Homo sapiens: one gene and its partners. The protein of the gene in region 4 purifies or fractionates together with the protein of the main gene of each other region. This does not show direct contact. Each region holds a gene or a part of one and is shown on either strand. Other genes may lie near its edges. The genes, in order: KLHL12, AKAP8L, NAGLU, OSBPL5, PLD1, HADHB and NPC1.

What was found.
Region 1: the proteins of OSBPL5 (region 4) and KLHL12 purify together in Homo sapiens (co-immunoprecipitation; one large-scale study listed by IntAct). This does not show direct contact.
Region 2: the proteins of OSBPL5 (region 4) and AKAP8L purify together in Homo sapiens (tandem affinity purification; one large-scale study listed by IntAct). This does not show direct contact.
Region 3: the proteins of OSBPL5 (region 4) and NAGLU purify together in Homo sapiens (co-immunoprecipitation; 3 studies listed by BioGRID and IntAct, with this or other methods). This does not show direct contact.
Region 5: the proteins of OSBPL5 (region 4) and PLD1 purify together in Homo sapiens (affinity purification with mass spectrometry; 2 studies listed by BioGRID and IntAct, with this or other methods). This does not show direct contact.
Region 6: the proteins of OSBPL5 (region 4) and HADHB purify together in Homo sapiens (co-immunoprecipitation; one large-scale study listed by IntAct). This does not show direct contact.
Region 7: the proteins of OSBPL5 (region 4) and NPC1 purify together in Homo sapiens (affinity purification with western blotting, with the first as the bait; one study listed by BioGRID). This does not show direct contact.

The regions. Positions count from the first base shown.
Region 1 is NC_000001.11:202,893,428-202,896,234, forward strand, and holds part of KLHL12 (kelch-like protein 12), read right to left. Parts: intron 2,291-2,807; coding exon 2,095-2,290; intron 1,323-2,094; coding exon 1,164-1,322; intron 856-1,163; coding exon 757-855; intron 1-756. UniProt on the Homo sapiens protein: Substrate-specific adapter of a BCR (BTB-CUL3-RBX1) E3 ubiquitin ligase complex that acts as a negative regulator of Wnt signaling pathway and ER-Golgi transport.
Region 2 is NC_000019.10:15,398,489-15,401,988, reverse strand, and holds part of AKAP8L (A-kinase anchor protein 8-like), read left to right. Parts: intron 1-385; coding exon 386-839; intron 840-945; coding exon 946-1,042; intron 1,043-1,124; coding exon 1,125-1,195; intron 1,196-1,630; coding exon 1,631-1,694; intron 1,695-2,578; coding exon 2,579-2,687; intron 2,688-3,222; exon of another isoform or gene 3,223-3,359; intron 3,360-3,500. UniProt on the Homo sapiens protein: Could play a role in constitutive transport element (CTE)-mediated gene expression by association with DHX9. Increases CTE-dependent nuclear unspliced mRNA export.
Region 3 is NC_000017.11:42,539,241-42,542,094, reverse strand, and holds part of NAGLU (alpha-N-acetylglucosaminidase precursor), read right to left. Parts: intron 1,146-2,854; coding exon 889-1,145; intron 1-888. UniProt on the Homo sapiens protein: Involved in the degradation of heparan sulfate.
Region 4 is NC_000011.10:3,099,311-3,102,810, forward strand, and holds part of OSBPL5 (oxysterol-binding protein-related protein 5), read right to left. Parts: intron 2,972-3,500; coding exon 2,873-2,971; intron 2,390-2,872; coding exon 2,293-2,389; intron 947-2,292; coding exon 848-946; intron 1-847. UniProt on the Homo sapiens protein: Lipid transporter involved in lipid countertransport between the endoplasmic reticulum and the plasma membrane: specifically exchanges phosphatidylserine with phosphatidylinositol 4-phosphate (PI4P), delivering phosphatidylserine to the plasma membrane in exchange for PI4P, which is degraded by the SAC1/SACM1L phosphatase in the endoplasmic reticulum.
Region 5 is NC_000003.12:171,674,484-171,677,983, reverse strand, and holds part of PLD1 (phospholipase D1), read left to right. Parts: intron 1-289; coding exon 290-418; intron 419-1,150; coding exon 1,151-1,269; intron 1,270-3,370; coding exon 3,371-3,484; intron 3,485-3,500. UniProt on the Homo sapiens protein: Function as phospholipase selective for phosphatidylcholine. Implicated as a critical step in numerous cellular pathways, including signal transduction, membrane trafficking, and the regulation of mitosis.
Region 6 is NC_000002.12:26,279,439-26,282,938, forward strand, and holds part of HADHB (trifunctional enzyme subunit beta, mitochondrial isoform 1 precursor), read left to right. Parts: intron 1-555; coding exon 556-677; intron 678-3,406; coding exon 3,407-3,486; intron 3,487-3,500. UniProt on the Homo sapiens protein: Mitochondrial trifunctional enzyme catalyzes the last three of the four reactions of the mitochondrial beta-oxidation pathway.
Region 7 is NC_000018.10:23,583,707-23,587,931, forward strand, and holds the start of NPC1 (NPC intracellular cholesterol transporter 1 precursor), read right to left. Parts: upstream 2,801-4,225; 5' UTR 2,638-2,800; coding exon 2,581-2,637; intron 1-2,580. UniProt on the Homo sapiens protein: Intracellular cholesterol transporter which acts in concert with NPC2 and plays an important role in the egress of cholesterol from the endosomal/lysosomal compartment.

The DNA of each region.
Region 1 (2,807 bases), on a different chromosome or scaffold from region 4:
GGGGAAAATGAATGCATTAGCAAATGTATGGTACTAAGCCTAGAATCTGAATTATAGAAATAAACTACGGTCACTAATGACTAGCTGAGTTCTACAGTAGATGAGGGATATGGAATGGGCCCACACGGGCCTAGAATAATCTAGTCCAGCACAAGTTATTCCATCTATAAACCCTTTGGCTTGGACTTGAAATGATAAAAGATAAATAATAAAAATGGTTCTCTTCTTTACTTTCATTAACTCAGAGCCCAACCCTTCTAATTAGGAGAAAGGGAGGAAGTGAAAAAAAGGTGGCAATAAAGGTAGATGGAGGGAAAGGAGTTGTGATTATGGTTCTGAAGCAATTTTTACCCAGAGTAAGTAAACTAGAACAGCACAGTGCTCTCTCCTTTTCTATATCCCAGCCTGCTCCACTTCAAAAAGCTCTTGGTGAAGGTAAGTAGCTACTCTTTTGTCCTTATGCATTAGAGACTTTATTTAACAGATATTTATTAAGCATGTACTACACAGGCAAAATTGTACTAGATATTCTAAAACGTAGGGAGAGAACAAAGACATGAAGGCTTTTGCTTTCAAATTTATAATCTAGTTGTAAGTATCAACTGTCTTTATCCTAGTATTTAGAGAAAACAGAGACAAGGAGGAGAGCAGAATCTCATTTTTACATTAATCTACGGTTTGTCCCATGCACCACCATTATATATGTAAAGGTCTGACAGCATCGCCTATTGTCCCCTCCCTCAGATCTGGTCTTACCAGAACGCTTGGTGGCCATTGGTGTAACATTAGTCCAATGTCCTGTATGAGGGTCGTATTTCTCAACTGAATTTAAGATATTCAAGCCGTCATATCCTCCTGGAAGACAGAGACCATTCCAGAAAGAGTGGTAAATCCTCATGCCCATTCCTGGTCGGTTTTTTTCTGAGTGCTTCAACTAATTATTTTAGTTTCAATTTTCCCACAAGAGTTCCAATAACTCTAAGAGAAATCTGACATTATGCTTATAAGAAAAAGATAATCCCAATTAATGGAAAATATATTAAGACACACCAGGGTTTTAGTTGAAGGGAAGTCTATGAACGTCATTTTGGTAAAAAGGAATCCTTACCCACAGCCCATTACCCATTGAGTTCCCTCCCATTCCTGCATCCCAGACTCAATACCTAGACAGTAGATCACTCCACTGGCCACTACGAGTCCGGCACCTTCCCGGGCTGTCTGCATATCTCCCAGCATGCTCCACTGGTCAATGTTTGGATCATAGCGCTCCATACTGGTGTGACGCCTGCTTCCATCAAAGCCTCCAGAGACATAGATCATATCTGCTCAGAATAAACAAATTACAGACTATTAGAGAATGAGAGATTTCTAAGAACTCTTTCCTCTACAAATTTTCCAAGGGTCCTTTAAAAGTCTGAGAGCAAAAACAAAGTATTTTTAAATGAGATAAGTCAATTAAGTTTTATAGACAAGGAAGACATCTAAAAAGAATGGGGTAAAACAAAATCCTTAAAAGCATTCAAAGACCACCTAGGAGTTTGCAAAAACACAACTAGTGCCAGTTCCCCACCCAGCACATTGGAACTTGATTTGCCAACTTTGTAGTCAATAATGAAACATCCATGAATATTGAACAGCTTCTATTACACTGATATTTCTGAAAGCAAAAAGGAGTATTTGTCGGCTGGGCACAGTGGCTCACACCTGTAATCCCAGCACCTTGGGAGGCCGAGGTGGGTCAATCACTTGAGCTCAGGAGTTAGAGATCAGCCTGGGCAACATGGCGAAACCCCATCTCTACTAAAAATACAAAAATATAGCTGGGCATGGTGGTGCATGCCTGTAGTCCCAGCTACTCAGGAAGCTGAGGTGGGAGGATCGCTTGAGCTTGGGGAGGTTGAGGCTGCAGTGAGCCGTGATCACACCACTGCACTCCAGCCTGGGCAACAGAGAGAGACCCTGTCTCAAATAATAATAACATTTGACCTTAATTTTTTCTCCGTATTTCATGCTCCTGCCAGACAACAGGAGAGGTTAAAAACCCTGGTCCAGCCACAGTAAGATGGAAATAATTGCCCTGCACATCCAGCCTACCTCCCAGGGTGGTGGCTCCAGCAAGACCTCGTCGGACATTCATAGGGGCCACAGAATACCAGACCCCATCCTCATCTGCTGTGTAGTCTAGACATTCCACTGAACTAAGGCGGGAACGGCCATCATAGCCACCAATGACGTAGATCCGGTCATGAAGGGACACTGAGGCCACATAACGTCTCTTACGAGTGATGCTCTATGGATTTGGAGAGAAGAGGTACAGAGCATTTCAGTTAGGCAAGTTTTGGGCCTTACCTTTTGCTATCTTCCCTGTTGTATCTGCACACCTCTCTGCTTCTTCACCTGTCATCATGAACCCTCCTTAAGTGGTTCATCCTCAAGTGGCTCCCAAATAGCTACCTACTGAACGAAATGCCTGTTGTGGTGCTCTTAAAGATACAAGCTTTCTGCATCTCTGCCTCTTTCCAAGGCTTCCAAAAGATTTAACAGCTTTCTGTTATCCAATATCTGACTCCTTTCTCTTCCATAAGGCACTGGGCTAAGAGACTGATATCCTTCCATAAAGTAGAAAAGTATTCCCACATTGCTAATCAAAGGATGAGGATTTATTATAAGAACCTTAAAAGGTAGGAGGGTTGGATTTCCATGTTTTCTCAGAAATTACTATTGTTCATTCAGCACTGAGAGACATGCTGAGGGAGACAGATACAAACTTTTTTTTTCTGAGTTGGGATCTCACTATCACCCAGGCT
Region 2 (3,500 bases), on a different chromosome or scaffold from region 4:
GGGTGCTGGGGTGCTCAGCCTTGCCCTGTGAGGAGCAGCCTTGGGCGTTGCAGCTCCCACAGATGGTGTACATGTTCCCAAAGGGCTGTGGAGCAGCTCTGCCCCTTGTTGAGACTCACTGGACTAGAGCCTCCACCCCAGTTATCAGTCCTTCAGTCCTTCTTAGGGTCCCCAAGCCAGTGTGTGGCTACATTCAAGTTTGGGGCAGTGGTGCCCCTATATCAGCTGAGAGGCTGGAACTCTTTAATCGGCATTTCTGAACATTGAGCCTCCCAACCAGGGCAGGGTGGGTGCTGGACTGGGAGATTGGGGAGGGCAGGAGCAGTTGCCTGGAGGTGAGGGATCCTGAGGGGCTCCACCTGATGCTCACCCCATGCCTCTGCAGGTATGACTCTTATGAGTCCTGCGACTCGAGGGCCGTCCTGAGTGAGCGCGACCTGTACCGGTCAGGCTATGACTACAGCGAGCTTGACCCTGAGATGGAAATGGCCTATGAGGGCCAATACGATGCCTACCGCGACCAGTTCCGCATGCGTGGCAACGACACCTTCGGTCCCAGGGCACAGGGCTGGGCCCGGGATGCCCGGAGCGGCCGGCCAATGGCCTCAGGCTATGGGCGCATGTGGGAAGACCCCATGGGGGCCCGGGGCCAGTGCATGTCTGGTGCCTCTCGGCTGCCCTCCCTCTTCTCCCAGAACATCATCCCCGAGTACGGCATGTTCCAGGGCATGCGAGGTGGGGGCGCCTTCCCGGGCGGCTCCCGCTTTGGTTTCGGGTTTGGCAATGGCATGAAGCAGATGAGGCGGACCTGGAAGACCTGGACCACAGCCGACTTCCGAGTGAGTGGAGGCAGCCTTCCCCTCTGGGAAGCTTAGTTCCCACTGGGGCGGAGCTAAGGGCCGGGTGCCATGCACCCTGACACGGCTTCCCCCCCTTATGACCCAGACCAAGAAGAAGAAGAGAAAGCAGGGCGGCAGTCCTGATGAGCCAGATAGCAAAGCCACCCGCACGGACTGCTCGGACAACAGCGACTCAGACAATGGTGAGCCCACTAGGTGGTACTGGGCGGCTGCCCCCTGCCTCTGGGAACTCCTGGGTTGAGCTTACCTCCTTTTCCCTTTCAGATGAGGGCACCGAGGGGGAAGCCACAGAGGGCCTTGAAGGCACCGAGGCTGTGGAGAAGGGCTCCAGAGTGGTAAGTGGCTCTGGCTGGGCATTTTCTGTCTGCAGGCAGGGCGAGCTGGCCTAAAGAGTGGTGCTCTCCCTGGGGGCCAGAGGCAATGCTGTGTCAGCTCTGCGTGCATGGTGACCAGCATGGGGAGGCAGTGTGGTCTGGCAGAAAGCACAGGCTGCCTAGCTGGAGGCACAGTTTCCTTGTTGGAAAATGGGATGAGCCCCTGTGCACCAGGTAGTGGGAGGATGTGAGGTTTCTGGCACATAGCCGGGCCTTGTCATTTAAAGCCATTGTAAATAACTGGGCTACTCTGGGCCACCCTGCCTATAGGATAGCCCTGCTCTGTCTATGGAGCAAGCAGCTGTTTTACTATATACCGTTGCTCTAATAAACTTGGTTTCTTTTAAAAAAAAAAAAAAAGGCACCTGTTTTAAAGTTGGAATTTGAAATTGTTAGGACGGAGAGGATGAGGAGGGAAAAGAGGATGGGAGAGAAGAAGGCAAAGAGGATCCAGAGAAGGGTGAGTTTTCCTGGGGTGCCTGGTGCTAGGGCGGCTCTTCCAGGGGCTCACAGTGGGAGGGACCCAGCTGAGGGCAGGGTTGCGGCAGACATGCGGCCAGTTGGGGACCTCCCTTGTGGGCCCGAGTGTGTGCTGGCAGGGGGCTTTCTTTTCGCCGCCTCCACCCCCTTCCCACTCTTCCTCCTCCTTCCCAGGCGGAGGCTGTGGATGGTGGTGACCCCTGCCTAGCACACTGGTTTTGCCTTCAGATGGGGGCAGCTAGTAAAAGTGTGGGGAACCCCAGGCACGCCCCCTGCCCTCGGTCCCTCAGTAACGCGCAGTTCCAAGTCCTCAGTGGCTGGTGTCCGATCTGGGACCCTCGGTGCAGTTTTTACGGCTCTGGTGTGCGTATCCTCTCCCTTAGCACCTCTCCAGCCCCTGTTGGGATTCCGTGTCCCCCCACCTGAGTGATGAGCGCCAGCAGGTACCTAACAGCAAATCCAGCGTCAGCCCACTGTTGCCGCGGTGCCCGGTTGGGGGTGGGCAGGGCCATGTGAGCAGCCTCCCTGCATCCCACCACCTGGCCCCTCTGAACATGTGCCAGTGTCCCCACAAAGATACCCCCTCTTTGCTTTCCAGCCTCCTCCTGGCCCACTGCACAGAGAGCATGGGTGTCCTGGAGAGTGGAGGGGTCATCGCCTGGCCCCCACTCCTTGGGGCCTAGGCCAAACCCACTCCCTGCACAGCCCAGGATACCCAGCCCTGCTCATGGCCAGAGGCCTTGCTTGGACAGCTATTCTCGATGGACCCTCTGGAGTGGACAGTGGGTGATTCAGCCAGAGGCCGCAGGGCCTGCCCTGTCCTGGCAGAGCCAAATTGGTGACAGTGCCCATCTGCTCCCACAGGGGCCCTAACCACCCAGGATGAAAATGGCCAGACCAAGCGCAAGTTGCAGGCAGGCAAGAAGAGTCAGGACAAGCAGAAAAAGCGGCAGCGAGACCGCATGGTGGAAAGGTAACCAGCTTCCCTCCACCCCTCTGCCTCTGCCTCGCTGTGGGGCTGCCGCCAGGAGAGCAGGGCCATAGCTCTGCCAGCTCGCCGCCCTCTGGCCTCCCTTGGGAGCCGCCACCTGCTCGGCCGTGCATGGACCCTGCTTCCCGCCAGGCCCAGCTCCCAAGGCCTGACTCATCCCCTGCCCCTCTGCGGCCGCCTGGCGACCGCTGGCGTCTGTGGGCCGAGACCTGACACCGCTCGGCACCGTTGCTCAGAAGCTCTGGCGCTAGGTCACTCGGCGCACGAACCCCAAGGTGCACTGGGGGCCTGATGCCCCTGAGGGAGGGGGCCAGCTCATCAGAGACTCAAGGTCCAAGGCGCCTGTGCCGCCCCAGCTAGCTGCCAAGAGGCCACCGCCGTGCCCAGGAGAGATGGCAGCACCTGTGGGCTGTGGCAGCCTCGGGCCTGCCTTCTGCCCTGCCCGCCGGCCCTGTCAGGCCGGGCCTGTCTGCGGCTGAGCCCTTCACGCCCCTTGGTCGGGTCTGTCTGCCCTCAGGGCTCCCGCACTGGCGCTTGCCTCCTCCGCCTCAGACTCTTGCTCTTGCTGGACCTTCCTCAGCCTCGCCGGCGCCCGGCCCCTGGGCTCTCCAGACAAAGCTGACCCCGTGGCCCAGATAAGGACGTCCGGCAGAGGTAGGGACCCGCCCCGAGGTCTCGGTGGCGGCTGGCCTCCTCCGCCCCTTGCCACGGCGGCCTGCTCCGGCCCAGGCCCCAGACCCCGGGCTTCTACTGTGGACACCAGGCCCAGACAGAGCACCTCGCCCAGGTGACTCC
Region 3 (2,854 bases), on a different chromosome or scaffold from region 4:
CGAGACTCTATCTCAAAACAAACAAAAATTGCCGGGCGTGGTGGCGGGTGCCTATAGTCCCAGCTACTCGGGAGGCTGAGGCAGGAGAATCGCTTGAACCTAGGAGACGAAGGTTGCAGTGAGATGAGATTGTGCCACTGTGCTCCAGCCTCAGCAACAGAGTGAAATCTGTCTCAAAAAAAAAAAAAATGTAGCTTCTCCTTCAGGTCTTGGGTAGGGCCTGAGAATTTGCCATCTCACAGCTCGGGCTGCTGCTGCTGCTGCTGCTGGTTTTGGGTCACACTTGGAGCAGTACTGCTCAAGAAAGGCTGAGCTGATCTGTTCCCTTCCTGGCCAACACAGACGCCTCTCCACTAAGTCATTCCTGACTTGGGCGCCCTCTGCTCCACTCCTCCTTTAAGTGGCAGGAAGGAGCCCTGGCTTCACAGTTTTGTAGCAGGATGCGCACTTAGTGCCTTTAGGCACATCCACTCACCTCCTGCCTGCAGTGCCTACTTCAGCAACCACGCAGAGATGAAACAAAATCCTTGTTCATAGCTAGCTCTTAGTGGCCTTTGCTCTGGGCCAGGCGTTATTCTACCTATGAGGTAGTCCCAGTTTACAGGAAAAGCAAACGAGACACTGGGAAGGAGGTCATGAGTCATAAGTCACACGGCCAGGAAATAGGAGCGCGAGGTGTGACCCAGGTTGTTGGCTTCCAGAGCTCACCTCTCAACCACAGTGGGATTCACTGAGACAACGCATGTGTACACGTGCTTGGTAAACTATGAAGTACTGTGTGTTATGGCGAGGCATTATTCCAGTCCCTCTGCCTACCCCTACTGACATCTGCTACTCCCTTCTTTTTGAGGGTCTGGGGGGCTCTCCCACCCCACCCAGGCACTGTACCTGCAGTCATGGCCTCATAGACGGCAGTGGTGGCTGCGGCAAGGTAGGAGGGCTCTGAGGAAGGTGGCTGCATCTCATTGAAAGTGTCGGCCCCATAGATGTGGTCTGTGCCAAACTCTTTGATCAGCTCTCGCAGGAAGAGGCTCCCGATGATGGGGAATATGGGGTCTTCCGGAGCCAGAAGGAAGGAGCAGGAGTAGGAACAGTTAAAGTGGCCCCAACTGCCCATCTTCGTGACATTGACCTGAGGGAACACCCTAGTGGGGAGCAAAAGCTCAGATATTTCATGGAAGCCGCCATAGTGTTCACCATAGTGTTCAACAGCCTTGCCAACTTCTCTACAGCTCCTGGTTTCTCTTGCCTCTATGGCTTTGTACAGGCTATGCTCTCTGCCTACAGTCCTTTCTTCTCCTTCCCTGGCCACCTTCTCTGAAAAACTTTCACTATCTCTCCCCTTCCTGTGGCCTGAAACAAGCAACGCTCCTTTTTCTTTCTTTTTTTTTTTTTTTTTGAGGCAGAGTCTCACTCTGTCCCCCAGGCTGGAGTGCAGTGGCGCATTCTCAGCTCACTGCAAGCTCTGCCTCCCAGGTTCATGCCATTCTCCTGCCTCAGCCTCCCTAGTAGCTGGGACTACAGGTGCCCGCCACCACACCCGGCTAATTTTTTGTATTTTTAGTAGAGACTGAGTTTCACTGTGTTAGCCAGGATGGTCTCGATCTGCTGACCTTGTGATCCGCCCGTCTCGGCCTCCCAAAGTGCTGGGATTACAGGTGTGGGCCACCGCACCCAGCTTTTTTTTTTTTTTTTAATTATACTTTCAGTTCAGTTCTGTGCAGAACATGCAGGTTTGTTGCATAGGTATACATGTGCCATGGTGGTTTGCTGCACCCATCAACCCATCATCTAGGTTTTCAGCCCCGCATGCATTAAGTATCTGTCCCAATGCTACTCCTCCCCTTGACCCCCACACCGCGAAAGGCCCCGGTGTGTGATGTTCCCCTTCCTGTGTCCATGTTGTTCTCATTGTTCAACTCCCACTATGAGTGAGAACATGAGGTGTTTAATTTTCTTTCCTTTTTTTTTTTTTTTTTTTGAGACGGAGTCTCACTCTGTCACCCAGGCTGGAGTGAAGTGGTGTGATCTCGGCTCACTGCAGTCTCTGGCCCCTGGCTTCAAGAGATTCTCATGCCTCAGCCTACCGAGTAGCTGGGATTACAGGAGCCCGCCACCACGCCTGGCTAATTTTTGTACTTTTAGTAGAGATGGGGTTTCGCCATGTTGGCCAGGCTGGTCTTTAACTCCTGACCGCAGGTGATCCATACGCCTCAGCCTCCCAAAACGCTAGGATTACAAGCATTAGCCAAGCGTCCGTCCAAGCAACACTCATTTTTCAAGGCTGGGCTCTGCCCTGAGCCCTTCCTGCCCCTCTCTCCCGGCAGAGGAGAGCGGAACCCACATATATTCCTGTCCTTGTCCCCACATTGTATCCTTCAGCCAACATATCTCTCCTATCAGGGGTAAGCCCTTGGGCACCTTTCTTGCCGCCTCCCAGGACCCAGCACAGCCAGTTCTGGCAGCCTCAGACAGCTGGACCAAGTTTATTGAATGAATGAGTGAGTTTCCTGCCACCTGGTGATGGGGGCAAAGAGGCGGGCAGGGAGGCCACTGGCATGCATTAAGTCCTACGAGAGTATGGGAGCCAGACATTAGCAGGTGCAAAGGAGGTCATGCGGGGCACTAGCAAGGCTTCCTGAAGGAGGGGAGGTCTCAGGTGAGCCTTGAAGACTTTTCCCAACCACATGTGAGAGGATGGCTGGGAAGCACAGAGGAACAGGAGGGACAAGGGACACTGGAGCACCCCTGCTGCCACTCCCAAGGGCTGCCATTTGCTAGCACTCTGTGCAAAGTCACAGATAGATCGAGAGATAATTACAAACCCTACAGCGAAGTGGGTAGAGATCCCATT
Region 4 (3,500 bases):
CCTTCTGTATTTAGCAAAACCCACAGAATGAGCAACACAAGGAGTGAAAAGGAAGGTGAACTGTGTACTCAGTTAGTAACAATGTATGAGTATTGGCTCATCGATGATACCAAATGTAGCACCTCAGTGTGAGATGTTAATAACAGGGGAAACTGTGTAGGGGACACACAGGAACTCTCTGTACTTCCTGCTCAATTTTTCTGTAAACACAACACTACTGTAAAAAAGAAAGTCTGTTAATGAAAAAATAAAAAAGAAATCCAAACTTTGAAACACTGTAGCAAGACTACAGGGCACCAAGGCAAGGAAAATATCTTCAAAGCAGCTACAGGGAAAAGCAGATTAGGTAACAAATAGGCTGACAGCTGATCATCCCCAACAGCAATGGAAGCCACAAGGCAAGCAAAACGCACATATTCAAAGGGCAGTAAAATAGCATCTACATGGAATTACCCACCTTCAAAAGTCATGGGCGAGGCTGGGCGCGGTGGCTCATGCCTGTAATCCCAGCACTTTGGGAGGCCGAGGCGGGCGGATCACCTGAGGTCGGGAGTTCGAGATCAGCCTGACCAACATGGTGAAACCCTGTCTCTACTAAAAATACAAAATTAGCCAGGCGTGGTGGCGCATGCCTGTAATCCCAGCTACTTGGAGCCAAGATCACGCCATTGCACTCCAGCCTGGGCAACAAGAGCGAAACTCCATCTCAAAAAAAAAAAAAAAAAAAGTCATGGGCAGATGAAGGCGAAGTAAAGATACCTTCAAGCAAATAACCAAAGGGTTTTAGCATCTAGCTGCTCTCACAGAGCCTGGCTCTGCCCTCGGAGTGTGTGGCTGAGCCTCTCACCTTTGCAGTGGGCGTAGGGCATGGTAAGGGTGTAATCCTCGGCTCGGTTCAGGAAGGTGAGCGTGGCTTTGCCGTCCAGCAGCGCCGACAGCGAGTTCCCTGCAGAGACAAGAGACAGCAGGACCAGTGAGTGCGGACAGCCCTTTCACATCTGAGGCCACCCCTAAGTCACAGGGTCTGAGCTCCTTCCAACAGCTGAACACGCTCCTGGCACTTCCAGTGGTGTGTCTGTGCGTGAGTCACTTAACCTCTCTGGGCCTCAGATTCTGTAAAATCCTTGTCCAGTGTGCACAGGACATCTGTGCTGAGAAGTTATTTCACCTTTGACTTGTTAGTGGTTTATTGCAGTCGCAAAACTGCAGATTCGCAGGGTGGAGGCTGCAAACTTTTTCAAACTCGACTGAGCCCTGCTCAGATTTTAAACATCCCTGTGGAGGGAGTACGCCTCGCTTGGGGCCACGAGTCGCAGGTACTGCTGGTGAGGAGAGGACAGAGTTGGGAAAGGTGGGCTGAACCTGAGGGTCGCACCTGGGACCCCCTCCCAGACTTCCACACACCCAGCAGAGAGCCGAGCACACAGAGGCAACAGGCGCACACCTGCCCATGGATGAAACTGATGAAAAAGGTACAACGGATGGGACGAAATGTAAACGGACACTTTTCTGAGCACCCAAGTCTGCCAGGCCCCAGAGCAGTGCAGTCCAATGGGGCTGTCTCTGAAGACCAGAGCTTCCCTCCTGCCTGTCCCACTCCGGGGCCAACACTGAGCCTGTGTGATTTGGCAATAGAGGGACTGCAGTTTCAGTTTCATTTCTTTTTTTTTTTTTTTTTTTTTGAGACAGAGTCTCACCCTGTCGTCCAGGCTGGAGTACAGTGGCACCATCTTGGCTCACTGCAACCTCCACCTCCCGGGTTCAAGCGATTCTCCTGCCTCAGCCTTCCCAGTAGCTGGGATGACAGGCACGTGCCACCATGCCCGGCTAACTTTTGTATTTTTAGTAGAGACAGGGTTTCACCATGTTGGACAGTCTGGTCTCAAACTCCTGATCTCAAGTGATCCACCCACCTCGGCCTCCCAAAGTGCTGGGATTACAGGCGTGAGCCACCATGCTTTGACTAAGTTTCATTTCATTTTAGCCAATTCAAATAGTCATGCAGTGCTCTGGGGCTGCTCAGCCCCAGTCCGCACCTTTCCATGTAGGTGCCCTCTCTCAGTCCCCACAGCGTCCCTACAAAAGGTGCCCACTCTCAGCTCGGGGAGCTGCGGGCAGCTCTGCCTCATGGCCGGGTCTCAGCACCTGACCACCACATGGTCTCTGACTAGGAGGGGTTGGGAGGGACAGGCACATGGCCCCCATCCAGATCTTGGTCCACTGGCTCCCGGAGTCCTCCCGACCATCGCATTTCCCTGAGGCCCCAGGGAGCGCCCAGGGTGACCCCCTCACCATAAAACCTGGACTTGGCTGTGATGCTGCCACTGATGCAGAAGCCGTCCTTCCGGTTGCTGACGTGGAAGGCAGACACGGGCGGGTGGTGGGACACCTGCGTGCAGGGAGGCGGCTCTGTAAACAGCCCCGGAAACAGGTAATCCCAGGAAGCGAGAGCCCAGCTTCCCCCAAAAAACCTGTCCCTGTCCCTGACGCCACATCTTCTCCCCCGATCCCAGGATTCGGGTAGGGGCCTTCCTGGCTCTCGCTTACGACGCCCAGGGCAGGTAGGCCTCAGCTGTGGGGCTTGCGGGCCCTGAGTTGCCCCAGAAGTCCCCATCGGGAGATGGGACACACTGTCCTCTCCCTAGGGAGACACTGTCTGCTGTCACAGTCATGGTGGTGTCTGCACCTTCTGCAAGAATCCCTGTTGGCAGCGGCTGGGTCCACAGCCCTTCCGGTGTGCAGGATGTGGGGTCCCCTGGAAGCCGGCCCTCGGGGTCACGCTTGCCCCTGCCTGCTGCCAGGGCCCCGCCCCCACAGAGCCCCGCCCCATAGAGCCCAGCACCCAGGCCGGTTGCAGCAGAGGTGCTCTTGCCTGCTCTGCTATGTAGAATGTGCGGCTGTCAGTCTGCGGGTGGAACCAGCAGCAGCGGAAGGTCTCCCCCAGGATGGGGTTGTACGGCTTCTTGATTCCCTGCAGACAACAGAGACTTGTGTGAGGAGCCAGGTGGGTAAGAGGTCCGCTGTGCAGAGCAGGTGAGGGATGTGGACGGAGGGGCAGCGTGGGTGGGCTACCCGCTGCCTGCTGGCCTGGTTTGCTGCTAGCATCTGGGAACAACACCTCACTTCTGCTTTGCGGGGACTATGCTTTGCCTGTGGTTTACATTCTTGGGGGACAGCCTCAGGGGAATCCTGTCCACTTCTTAGCTCGGAGAAGGGACACGAGACCCTGACCTTGTCACACTCTCCTTGGACCTTGGGTGTAACCTGCACACAGCCTGCTGAAAGCCATGGAAGGCACCAGGCAGTCAGAAGTCCTGCCTCTACCCCAAACCTGCTGTACGACTCAGGCCATCCTTTCACCTGAGCCTCAGTTTCCCCATCTGCACAATAAAGAAGTGGAACCACGGTCGTGGTTTTCAAACTTGCTTCCCATGGAACCCCAGGGCTCTGTGGTGGGGTCAGGGGAGCTGCGGGCCCTCTTGCTCACTACAACGAGAGCA
Region 5 (3,500 bases), on a different chromosome or scaffold from region 4:
TCCAGTGATCTGGTAGGTGGTGGAAATAAGTTACTCAACTGCCTGAGAAGGTCAAATTTCATTGTTTAATGATGAATCTTGTTGTAGCCCTAACTGCCCACTAAAAGTAAACTTGTAAGGACTGTAAAACCTTGTTAGCCCACAGCCTGTAATAGAATGGACAGATGCCACCCTAGTTGTGTCTTAAGAAATTAAGAAGCTTTTAGGTGTTTAATAAATGAGAGTTGAGCCTCCCTTTCTGGGACTCACCTGAACCACAGTCTCTGAGGGGGTCTTGCTGCATTCACAGATACCGGGTCCATCCGTAGTTTACAGACAGGTGTGGGAGAGCTGCATGGGGAAACCAGATTCTGGCATGGAAAGGACTACTGCAATTTCGTCTTCAAAGACTGGGTTCAACTTGATAAACCTTTTGCTGGTGAGTATCATAATGGTGGGGTGCTGGTTATATTTTGTCTTTTACCTTTGAACATCTCAGCAAGTATACATGTGCATGATCTAAATGCCTTTTGTTTTGCTTCCGTTGATTTTTGAAAATTTTTTAAAACTTTGGAGACTAGATTTAGTCATTAGCATGTGCTTAAGGACTTTTTTTTCAGTTATAATAAGAAAAGAACATGAAATAGAGCTGAACTGTCTGAAAAATCCAGATTTTTATAGGCATATTTTGGGGGCAATAATCAGTAATTTTTCAGGAAATGGTAGGCTCCCTTTGATCATCTTCTATTCTGCTTATTTCCTGCATTTCCAGCGTTAGAATGGCATATTTTCAGGTTATCACTGGGTTTATATGTTTAAGAGGAGATAGAGATGGCATTGCCTGCCATTGTTTCAACAGGATAAAAAATAAAAAATATAATATCAAATACACAGCCTTAGATAATTTGTACCAACTCACATCTTGCCATGTCTAGTGATTATCTAATCCTAAGTGAAACGGAAACATATGTGGGGAAGTGCCTGGGAGACTATGTCCCTGAATGTGAAATCTGTTTCCCTTGATTATAAAAATGTTGTTCTATGCAAGCCAAGAAATATATACCTAGTGGGCACTAACCCACGTTTCCTTTTAGTTTCATAGTTGGAGTCAGAGAGACTTTGCCCCAACACTGAAGTTAATGACTGATCCTTGCCTGGTGCACCCGGGCAGATTTCATTGACAGGTACTCCACGCCCCGGATGCCCTGGCATGACATTGCCTCTGCAGTCCACGGGAAGGCGGCTCGTGATGTGGCACGTCACTTCATCCAGCGCTGGAACTTCACAAAAGTACTTGGATGTTGCTATCATGATTTATCCACATGAAGAGAGGCAGGCCTAACTAGAGAAGAGGTTTAGAGGAGGCTGGTAGCAAGAAGAGACTGTTGTGGCCACAACTGTGTCACTGCTCTGCTGTTGGCTGCATTGATGTCCGGGTGCCTGGGCATCTGGGCAAAAAAAAAGGGAAACATTCCCGAATGTCCACACCATAGACAATTCAGAGTGCCTAGGGACAGGTGCTGCTGTGTGGGTCCTGATTTTAACCTTGTTAACATCTTGGACACAGTGTTGACTAAGCATTTAGTAGCCTGGGCTCGGTAGTCATTTGCAGGGCTGTTATAGGGGGATAGGAGCCTGGTTTAGATGAGAGGGCTTGAGCTTTAAAGTCCCATCCAGTTGGATGGGACTGGAATTGCACTGGGTTTATATTGGTACAGGATTCTGAGAGCTGGTTCTGAGCAAACCAAGAAGTATTAAGAAGGTGGGGCCATTTTCCTTTTATCCAGATTGTGTCCTCATTACTTGTAAGAACTTGACATAACATTCAAACCTAACATTCATAAGTTAAGTACGTATCATTCAGGCCAGGCACGGTGGCCCACGACTGTAATCCTGGCACTTTGGGAGGCCTAGGCTGGTGGATCACCTGAGGTCAGGAGTTCGAGACCAGCCTGACCAACATGGTGAAAACCTGTCTCTACTAAAATACAAAAATTAGCTGGGCATGGTGGTGGGTGCCTGTAATCTCAACTGCTCTGGAGGCTGAGGCAGGAAAATCACTTGAATCCAGGAGGCGGAGTTTGCAGTGAGCTGAGAGGACTCCATTGTACTCCAGCCTAGGCAACAGAGCGAGACTCTGTCTCAAAAAAAAAAAAAAAAAGTACATATTCAGGTGTTATTAAAGTTTCACTTTATTTACTTGAAGGGATAATGAGTCATGATTCCCCTTGGTCGTTTGGAAAAAGAATTTAGTTTTATCAACCACTTAGAGTCTAACTTTGTTTTTCATTCACATAATGATTATAAAAATTTAGTGGACATTCTAATTGAAATTTTTTAACAAAAATTTAGGGGAGATGGATGAATAAACAAATGGGGTGTTACTTTTAACCTGCTATACTGGCAAAGATAAAAGTCTCTGCTGATACCTGTAGTTAGGTTTGGGGTGGTTTTTGTGGTGTGCTCATACATGCTACCCCAGGGAGGATAAATTTGTACAACACCAATAAGTCTTTTTTAAAGTATGCAATCTTTGATCCAGAAAAACTATTTCCGGGTATTCAAACTAAAGCCATAATCCAATAAGGTAATTTATTTTGATATGGCTTCTAATAATTCAAATAAAATTAGAAATAACAGAAATCCTTACTAATAGGAATTTATTAAACAAATGATTCTTTTATACCATTTTACTATGAAGTTATTAAAAATAATGATATCCCACTATATTGCTGTGACAAGATATCTAGAACATAATCAGTAAAAAATTAGTTTATAAAACAATAGTCTCATTTTTGCAATTATAAAGTTCTGTAACTACAGATTATATTTAACCTGTCTTTACAAATATAAAACAATATTTCCCCTACAAAAGGTAAAAACAGGACTGTGAGAAGTAGAAAACAAACACAAATAATCTGTAGCCCTTCACTTAGAAATGTCCACCATTAACATTTTTCTTTTTCTTTTTCAAATTAACCTGAATTTCTTTTCTTTTCTTTTTCTTTTTTTTTTTTTTTTTTTTGAGATGGAGATTCACTCTTGTCACCCAGGCTGTAGTGCAATGATGAAATCTCGACTCACTGCAACCTCTGCCTCCGAGGTTCAAGTGATTCTCCTGCCTCAGCCTCCCGAGTAGCTGGGATTACAGGCGCCCGCCACCATGCTTGGCTAATTTTTGTATTTTTAGTAGAGATGGGGGTTTCACCGTGTTGGCCAGGCTGATCTCGAACTCCTGACCTCAAGTGATCCCCGCTTCTTGGCCTCCCAAAGTGCTGGGATTACAGGCGTGAGCCACTGCACCTGGGCATGAATTTCTTTTATAATCACAAAGTAGGGAGAATGAATCTTTTTTCTCATTTGAATATTTTATCCTTTTTCTTTATTTTAGATTATGAAATCAAAATATCGGTCCCTTTCTTATCCTTTTCTGCTTCCAAAGTCTCAAACAACAGCCCATGAGTTGAGATATCAAGTGCCTGGGTCTGTCCATGCTAACGTACAGGTAAGTAAGTTCTGGC
Region 6 (3,500 bases), on a different chromosome or scaffold from region 4:
CTTAAATATGGATGCAAATTTTGATTTATGTTGTAACAATAGGTTAACATTTTTTAATGTTTCTATAAGAGTGTCCTTTTAAGATCTGAGCACTAATCTCAGCACTTTGGGAGGCTGAGGCAGGAGGATCGCTTGAGGCCAGGAGTTCAAGACCAGCCTGGTCAACAGCGTGAGACTTCATCTCTAATTAAAAAAAAAAAAAAGAAAAACAGAGTCTCCTTTTAGATCTTGCTGATATATTTTAGTTCTTACATACATGCCTGTTTTTAAAATTCCTGAATCGTCTGACTTCTGTATAGAATAGCCAACTGTGAATGAATGTCTTAAGAAAATAGGGTGTCCTATTTTTAGTAAAGCATTTAGATGATTTCCCAATTGTCTTTTAAGACTTTAGTTTAAAATTTGATAATATGATAATTATAAAACACTTTCCTTCTAGTGAATAGGTAAGGTTTATATTTCATTTGTTTTTGTAATTTTTAAAGCATATTTCTGTGGAGAAGATATATAAGGCTTGTGGTTCCATAGAGTTAAAAAAATTCATTTTTTTAATAGGAAAAGATACAGTTACCAAAGATAATGGCATCCGTCCTTCCTCACTGGAGCAGATGGCCAAACTAAAACCTGCATTCATCAAGCCCTACGGCACAGTGACAGCTGCAAATTCTTCTTTCTTGGTAACTGTCAATGTTATTTGTATTTAGTAGTGACTTTTCTATTTCTGTACTCTCTGTAGAAAAGCCTAATATAACTTTTTGTGTGTGTTATGAATAGAGGGTTAAAAATATAGTTATTCATTTTAATGTGAAAGTGGAGTCATTAAAAAAAAAATAGAATCACGGTTTTAAGGCCCGAGAAGTCACCTAATCCAGCCACCATTCTGCCACAAAAGCTCTTCCTTTCAGGCACTTAACCAGTCAAAAACTTCTATTGCTTATGGTGGGCCCTGGAAATGAAAAGAATAGACAATTGCAATATAGTGAGATGCTGTGATGGCTGTAAGGCTTAGGTCGAACCCCTGACCCAGATGGGGGGACAGTCAGAGAGTCTTCTTGGAAGAGGTAACACTTGAGCAGCAAATCTTGAAGGAAGAGTAAAAGCCAACTCAGGAAGGATTTTAAAAGGCATTTCAGGCCGGGTGCGGTGGCTCACGCCTGTAATCCCAGCACTTTGGGAGGTTGAGGCAGGCAGATCACCTGAGGTCAGGAGTTCGAGACCAGCCTGAGCAACATGGAGAAACCCCGTCTCTACTAAAAATACAAAATTAGCCAGATGTGGTGGCACATGCCTGTTAATCCCGGCTACTCGGGAGGCTGAGGCAAGAGAATTGCTTGAACCCTGGAGGCGTGGAGGTTGCGGTGAGCCAAGATCGCACCATTGCACTCCAGCCTGCACAAGAGCGAAACTCCCATCTCAAAAAAAAAAAAAAAAAAAAAAAAAAAAGGCATTTTGGACAAAGGGAATAGCAAATGCAAAATCAAGGAAGTATGAGAGCAAGGGGTTCTTTGGGGAAAAGTTAGGTTGGAGCATAAGGTATGAACTGGGAAGTCGCAGAAGACAAGGAAAAGCAGGCAGAAAGAGTAACAGGATACCTCTTCCAGCCCTGATTGTTAGAAAACTGCTTTACACTGACCCCAATATTATTTTCCTGTAAGCATCATGGAACAAATCTACCACTGTTTGTTTTGTGTTTTTTTTTTAACTTATCAACATGTAGCTTCATATCCTTCCATGCTTTTCTGACTCCTCAATTAAACATCTTTATTGATTCTGCTGCTGCTTGTAAGATGTGATTTCTCTTCTCTTACCACCTTGGGTATAGTCTTCTGGATATAGGCCATCTGGTCAGAGTTTCTCTTACAATGTAACTCTCCTACCTGGCCATAAAGTCTTGAAAACATACGCAGATGTTTGACATATTTGCCCATGGTAAATGACTAATTAATGCCTGCTCTTGATAGGCTAGGGGAGTGGAATCTGGAGTAGTTCCAACAGGATGGAACACCACCCTGTTAAGCCCAGGTGGTGAAGAGCTGGTTAGGTTGGTCATTTGCAAAACCGAATTGGATGATAGAGCCATGTGGCATGGACTACACTTGCCAGATCTGAATCCTTTTGATTATTTCCAGGGTATGCTAAAGGTCCAGGTTTATTTAGTGAGAATCAGAGACACAAATCATCAGAGGTGACACATCACAATACATGGATTTTGGGGACTGCATTAGTGCCCCACATTCATTGCAATTTTGCACAATGGCACATTGAACCTGTTATTAATGTAATGTCTGTAAACCATTTATTCCATATGGTCACCTATGTCTCCAGACTTTATGGACACCCTATTGGTGGCTACACAGTCTCTTCAGGGTTGCCGAGTTATAAAAATACGACAGAATGTGGTAGAACTTATTTTGATTTTACAAATTATGAAGAATAGTTTCCTTTTCTTTGGAATTCTGAAGTTTTTGGGGGAGCTTTTCTTCTTTGAAGTATGGTAAAGGACGTTTTTTCAGTAGTACTTCTTTGTCCTCCAGCTTCTCGGTTGTCATTTGGGAAGAAATGTATGGGGTGTATCCAAAGAGGGAAGATTGTGGTTCTAATGTCCTCAGCTGGTTCTCCCATTGGTTTGCTCGTTACAGAATATATAAGTAGAATAAAATGACCTGTAAGCCACGGGCAGAAAGCAGCTGAGAGCCCAGAAAATGTAAAAATAAATAAATAAGAGATATGTTTATTTTGGTTCATATTTTGTGCCACAAGCTAAAAACTTTGGCTTAAATAAGTGTTTAGTGTTTATTATGAGCAGTTCTTTCTTTTTTTTTTTTTTTTTTTTTGAGACAGAGTCTGGCTTTGTCACCCAGGCTGGAATGCAGTGGCACGATCTCAGCTCACTGCAACCTCCGCCTCCCAGGTTCAAGCAATTCTCCTGCCTCAGCCTCAGCCTCCCAAGTAGCTGGGACTACAGGTGTGTGCCACCACACCTGGCTAAGTTTTTCTATTTTTAGTAGAGATGGGGTTTCACCGCGTTAGCCAGGATGGTCTCAATCACCTGCCTCATGATCTGCCCGCCTCAGCCTCCCAAAGTGCTGGGATTACAGGCATACAGGCATGAGCCACCACGCTTGGCCATGAGCATTTATTTCTAAAGTTACCTCTTCTGTTGATTCATTTTGATTATTATGATACTTTTGAACAGCCTTCTCTACCCTCATCCTCCAAAAATGAGTCAGCGTGTGTATGTTTGAATTATGATTTAATGATGGATACAGTGAAGTAAGTGTTGTTATATAGAATCACTGTATAAGTCTAATGAGTTAATAGATTCAGGTACAGATATATAAGATGGCTGGAGAAAGACCTCCAGACAGGCTGAAGAATTTTAACATTGTGCTGGTTAACATTTCAGACTGATGGTGCATCTGCAATGTTAATCATGGCGGAGGAAAAGGCTCTGGCCATGGGTTATAAGCCGAAGGCATATTTGAGGTAAAGTAAATGTT
Region 7 (4,225 bases), on a different chromosome or scaffold from region 4:
GAGTGATTCTTTGTTCTGGGTAATATAACAAACACTGGAGGAATACAAAGGCCTATTCAGCGAGTCCTTTTCCCTCTGCCCACTGGCTCAAATTTAAAAAAATCTCATTTTCCCCTTGATTACTTATGTTAGTAAAATTTCTGATCACAGCATCAGTCAAGGAGTGGGAAAGATGGGGAAAGATTTCCCACAGTCATTCCAATTTCAGATGGTTGTTCTTAATCACTCACAGGTCAAAAGATTAACCATTCCCAGTCTTCTGAGGAAAAGCCATTTTAATGCTTAATTTCTACCCAGGCTTCTCTATGTTCCAAGTCCCTCAAGATAAAGCTTACCAAAATTACAGCCGGGAAAAATAAAGGCTATGTCTCAAAACTGCATATAGTTTTTAGATGACTACAGGGTTTTAAAAACAAGGCAGTCTAGTAATGTTATTACATCATCTGTACATATTGAACATTAAGAAAAAGCAAAAATCCCCCCAACATGTATTTCAGATCTTACACAGGACAACTAGTCCATAATTCCATGATAGAACTCTACTAGCGCTCAGACTGAAGCTAATGAGCTGCTATCATCGGTACGAATTCTAAAAGCAGACACACTCTCTCTCCCAATCTGTTTGGCTTCATGGCTCCACCCCAATCTGTTCAGGTGCACTGAAAGCTTTCAGACATGAGGAATTTTTAAAATAATAATAGGATTATTTCCAGTTAAGGTTTACAGACCTTGAAAAGGCCTCCAGGCATTTTTGCAAGAGACTTACAACAAACCTCTGACCTATCCCAAATGTCATAAAAGAAGCACTCATTGGCCATCAGCCTTGGGTACTTGAGATTTAAAAAATACTTAAGAGATGGCTACTTAATAATGTGAAGCCTGGCTGGGCGAGGTGGCTCACACCTGTAATCCCCAAAAGAGGAGGGCGGATCGCTAGAGGTCAGGATTTCGAGACCAGCCTGACCAACACGGTGAAACCCCATCTCCACGGAAAATACAAAAATTAGCTGGGCGTGGTGGTGGGCACCTGTAATCCTAGCTACCTGGGAGGCTGAGGCACCAGAATTGCTTGAATCCAGGAGGCAGAGGTTGCAGTGAGCCGAGATTGCGCCACTACACTCCAGACTGGGCAACAGAGACTCTGTCTCCAAAAAAAAGGGAAGCCTATTTAAGGTCCTGATCTAAAACTCTAGGAGGGGCCAGGAGTGGTGCTCACAATAATCCCAGTGCTTTGGGAGGCCAAGGTGGAAGGACTGCTTGAGGCCAGGAGTTCCAGGCTGCAGTGAGCTATGATGGCGACACTGCCCCCACGCCTGGGCAACAGAGCAAGAACCTGTCTCTAAAATAAATAAATTTTAAAAATAAATTTTAAAAAACTCTAGGGAAACAGAATAGCCACATTTTCTCTACGGCACATAATTGCTATTATTTATTTCTCTCTCTTTTTTGTTTTGACACAGGGTCTTGCTCTGTTGCCCAGGCTGGAGTACACCGGCGTGATCACAGCTCACAGCAGCCTCAACCTCAACAATGAAAAGAAAAACAAAATGTTTTTAAGACGGTGTTTCACCATGTTGCCCCGGCTGGTCTTGAACTGCTGAGCTCAAGAGATCCTCCCGCGGAGCCCTTCTCCTGGCTCTTAGTCCATTATTGGATCAACATCACCTATCCCCTTCTGAGAACTAAATAGAAGTCGAAGGAGAGTTTTTTCTAGTCCACGGAACCCCCTCTCCCCTGATTCACCACTTCCTATTGACGCCACACCTATGTGAGGGGCGTTAATGTGCACAAGGACACAATTCCCCGGAGGCACTCTCATCCTGATTTGGTTTAACGAGTCACAGCGTGACACTGCCCCACTCCAGTTTTAAAAGAGGAAACTACAGACACACAAATACTGAGGTGCTCTTTCCCAAAGCTATTAAACCAAGCAAAAGCCCCCAGAAGGAGTCAGCAGGACACCGAGTTCCAGGCCCCATCCTGTCGCTGGCTAATAGTGACAAGGGGAAATTCAATACCGCCCTGTGAGTCTCAGTGTCCTGAGGTGTAAAAAGGAGTTGATGAAAAGTAACCTGCCCTCTTTAGAAGACCAAGCTGACTTATGTCAAGTACTCAAGGCAGTTTCACCGGGTGCTTGAGGAAGTTTGTGTCTCTTTACCTCTGCTTCCACCTCCATCCTCAGGTGATGAGAAGAGGAAATAAAGTGGTTAGAGCTCCTAAATTTTGGAGTTCGTGCGCATGTAGCAGAATTTTTTAAAAAGCAAGTAGTGTCCCTATCCCACTCTACCCACTTTCCTCCCTTCTTCTGGTGCCACATCCTACACAGAGAAATTAGGTGACCACAGATGGAACAAGCTCAGAACAGGTCACCCAAGCCCCCACTGCCACCCTCTTCCAGACCACAGGAAAGAGAGCGTGGCCGGAGACAGAAACAGGACAAGTGAGGAACCTCCGAGCTCTCCATCGCCAGACCAACTTCCCCAGGACCCGGGCCTGAGCCGTCGCTGGGCCCGTCGCCTTCCCCGGCTCTCGGCCCCGCCACGTCCCCACAGGGCGTCCCGGTGGCCGGCGACCGCTCACCTGCGCTGGACACAGTAGCAGCAGGAGGAGGCCAAGGGCCAGGCCGCGAGCGGTCATGCTGTGGCCGCGCAAGGCTGCTGACGCCGGCGGCGTTCGGCTGGTTGGGCTCCCCGGAGGCGGCTCTACTTCCCCGGGCTGTTTCAGCACCCCGCGCAGGAGGAGCGGAGGAGCAGGAGCAGGCGCTGACCGCGGCAGCAGGCTGCGCGCGCCGGTCAGGAAGGAAGAAGGCGTCGTCGGCTCCGCCCTTTCTGGGAGGTGCCGCTGCCGGGACTCCCTGGCCCGGGCTGGGGCGCCGCCGCGACCCCGCTTCAAGGTCCCCGTGTTGCCCTTCTCCTCAGCCCCTGCAATCCCCGGGGGCCAGGCGCGGGACTTATGGAGTCTGGCTCGGCCCGGGAGAGTATCTGTGGAGTTGTGCCAACGGTTTCTGGCCGTGATGCTTTCCCTTTTCGTCTCTGGGTTGGAGGGGGCGGGCGAGGTTTCAGCGAAGGGTAGTGCTGTTCTGGGGGACTTCCGGGTAAGGTCCCGCCCGGCCGCGGAGTCTCTGTTTATTTCGGCTCCGACAATTACGCTGAGCGACTTCTCCTCCCAACCCAGTCACCTGAAAGGAATCTGGACCCCGGCACTTTCTAGCAGAGCCCGGGGCGGTGACGCGCGGTGGCCTGACCGTGTGACGATCCGCGAGTGCGGCGGGGCGGGGCGGGGCGGAGCGCGGGGTGGGCGGTGGCGGTGCGGCCAGGCCCGGGAAAAAAAGTGCGGGAGCCTCGCCACCTGCTGGCCCAGCTGCGCAGCGCAGCCCGTGGGCGCGAGGAAACCCCGAGGTGGGGACCAGGGTCTGTTTTAAGTTCTACGTGAAGGCAGATAAAGAAGACGCGTTGTCATTTTTGAGCCATGCGTTTGATATATGTATTTATCTTTAACTCTAGTTGTATGTGTTTCTGGTAACGTTTTCCCTCAAATTTCAAGTATTCAGACCACTCAAAAGCATCTGTCATTTCCATTTTGAAGTTAAGAAAATGGAGGTGAAGATCTCTTTCCCAACAGTGAAAGCAAATTTACGATGAAAAGACTAAACCTTCATCTGGAGCAATGACCGAACCCCTCCCCAAGGAGTCCCATGATGCAGATGACCTTCCCATCCCTATCCTATAAAGTGCTGTTTCACTTTCTGTCTTGCCTTCTCACCTCCTCAGCCCTGAGATGTCCACCTGGCTGGCCTGGCAGTGAAACTATGGGGATTTCTTCAGGACCTTCAGCCTAGGTCCTCCACGACGACCTCGTGGTCCTCAGTCAGCTCTGTGCTCTCGCTTCCCACTCCCCAGGCTCCAGCTCCTGGTGCCCCCACTGAGGATCAAGTCCTGTGTATGCCTTCATGCAGGGATCCTCAAACGGCCATCCCCAGACCAGCAGCAGGAGCATCTCCTTGGAACTTGTTAGAAATGTAAATTCTCAGCCAGGGCAATGTAGCAAGACTCCCTCTATACAAAAAAAAAATTTTTTTTAAGTTAGCTGGGCATAGTGGCACACACCTGTAGTCTCAGCTACTAAGGAGGCTGAGGCAGGAGGATTGCTTGAGCCCAGGAGGCTACAGTTGTCTATGATCATGCTGCTGCACTCCAGCCTGGGTGATAGAGCAAGACCCTGTCTC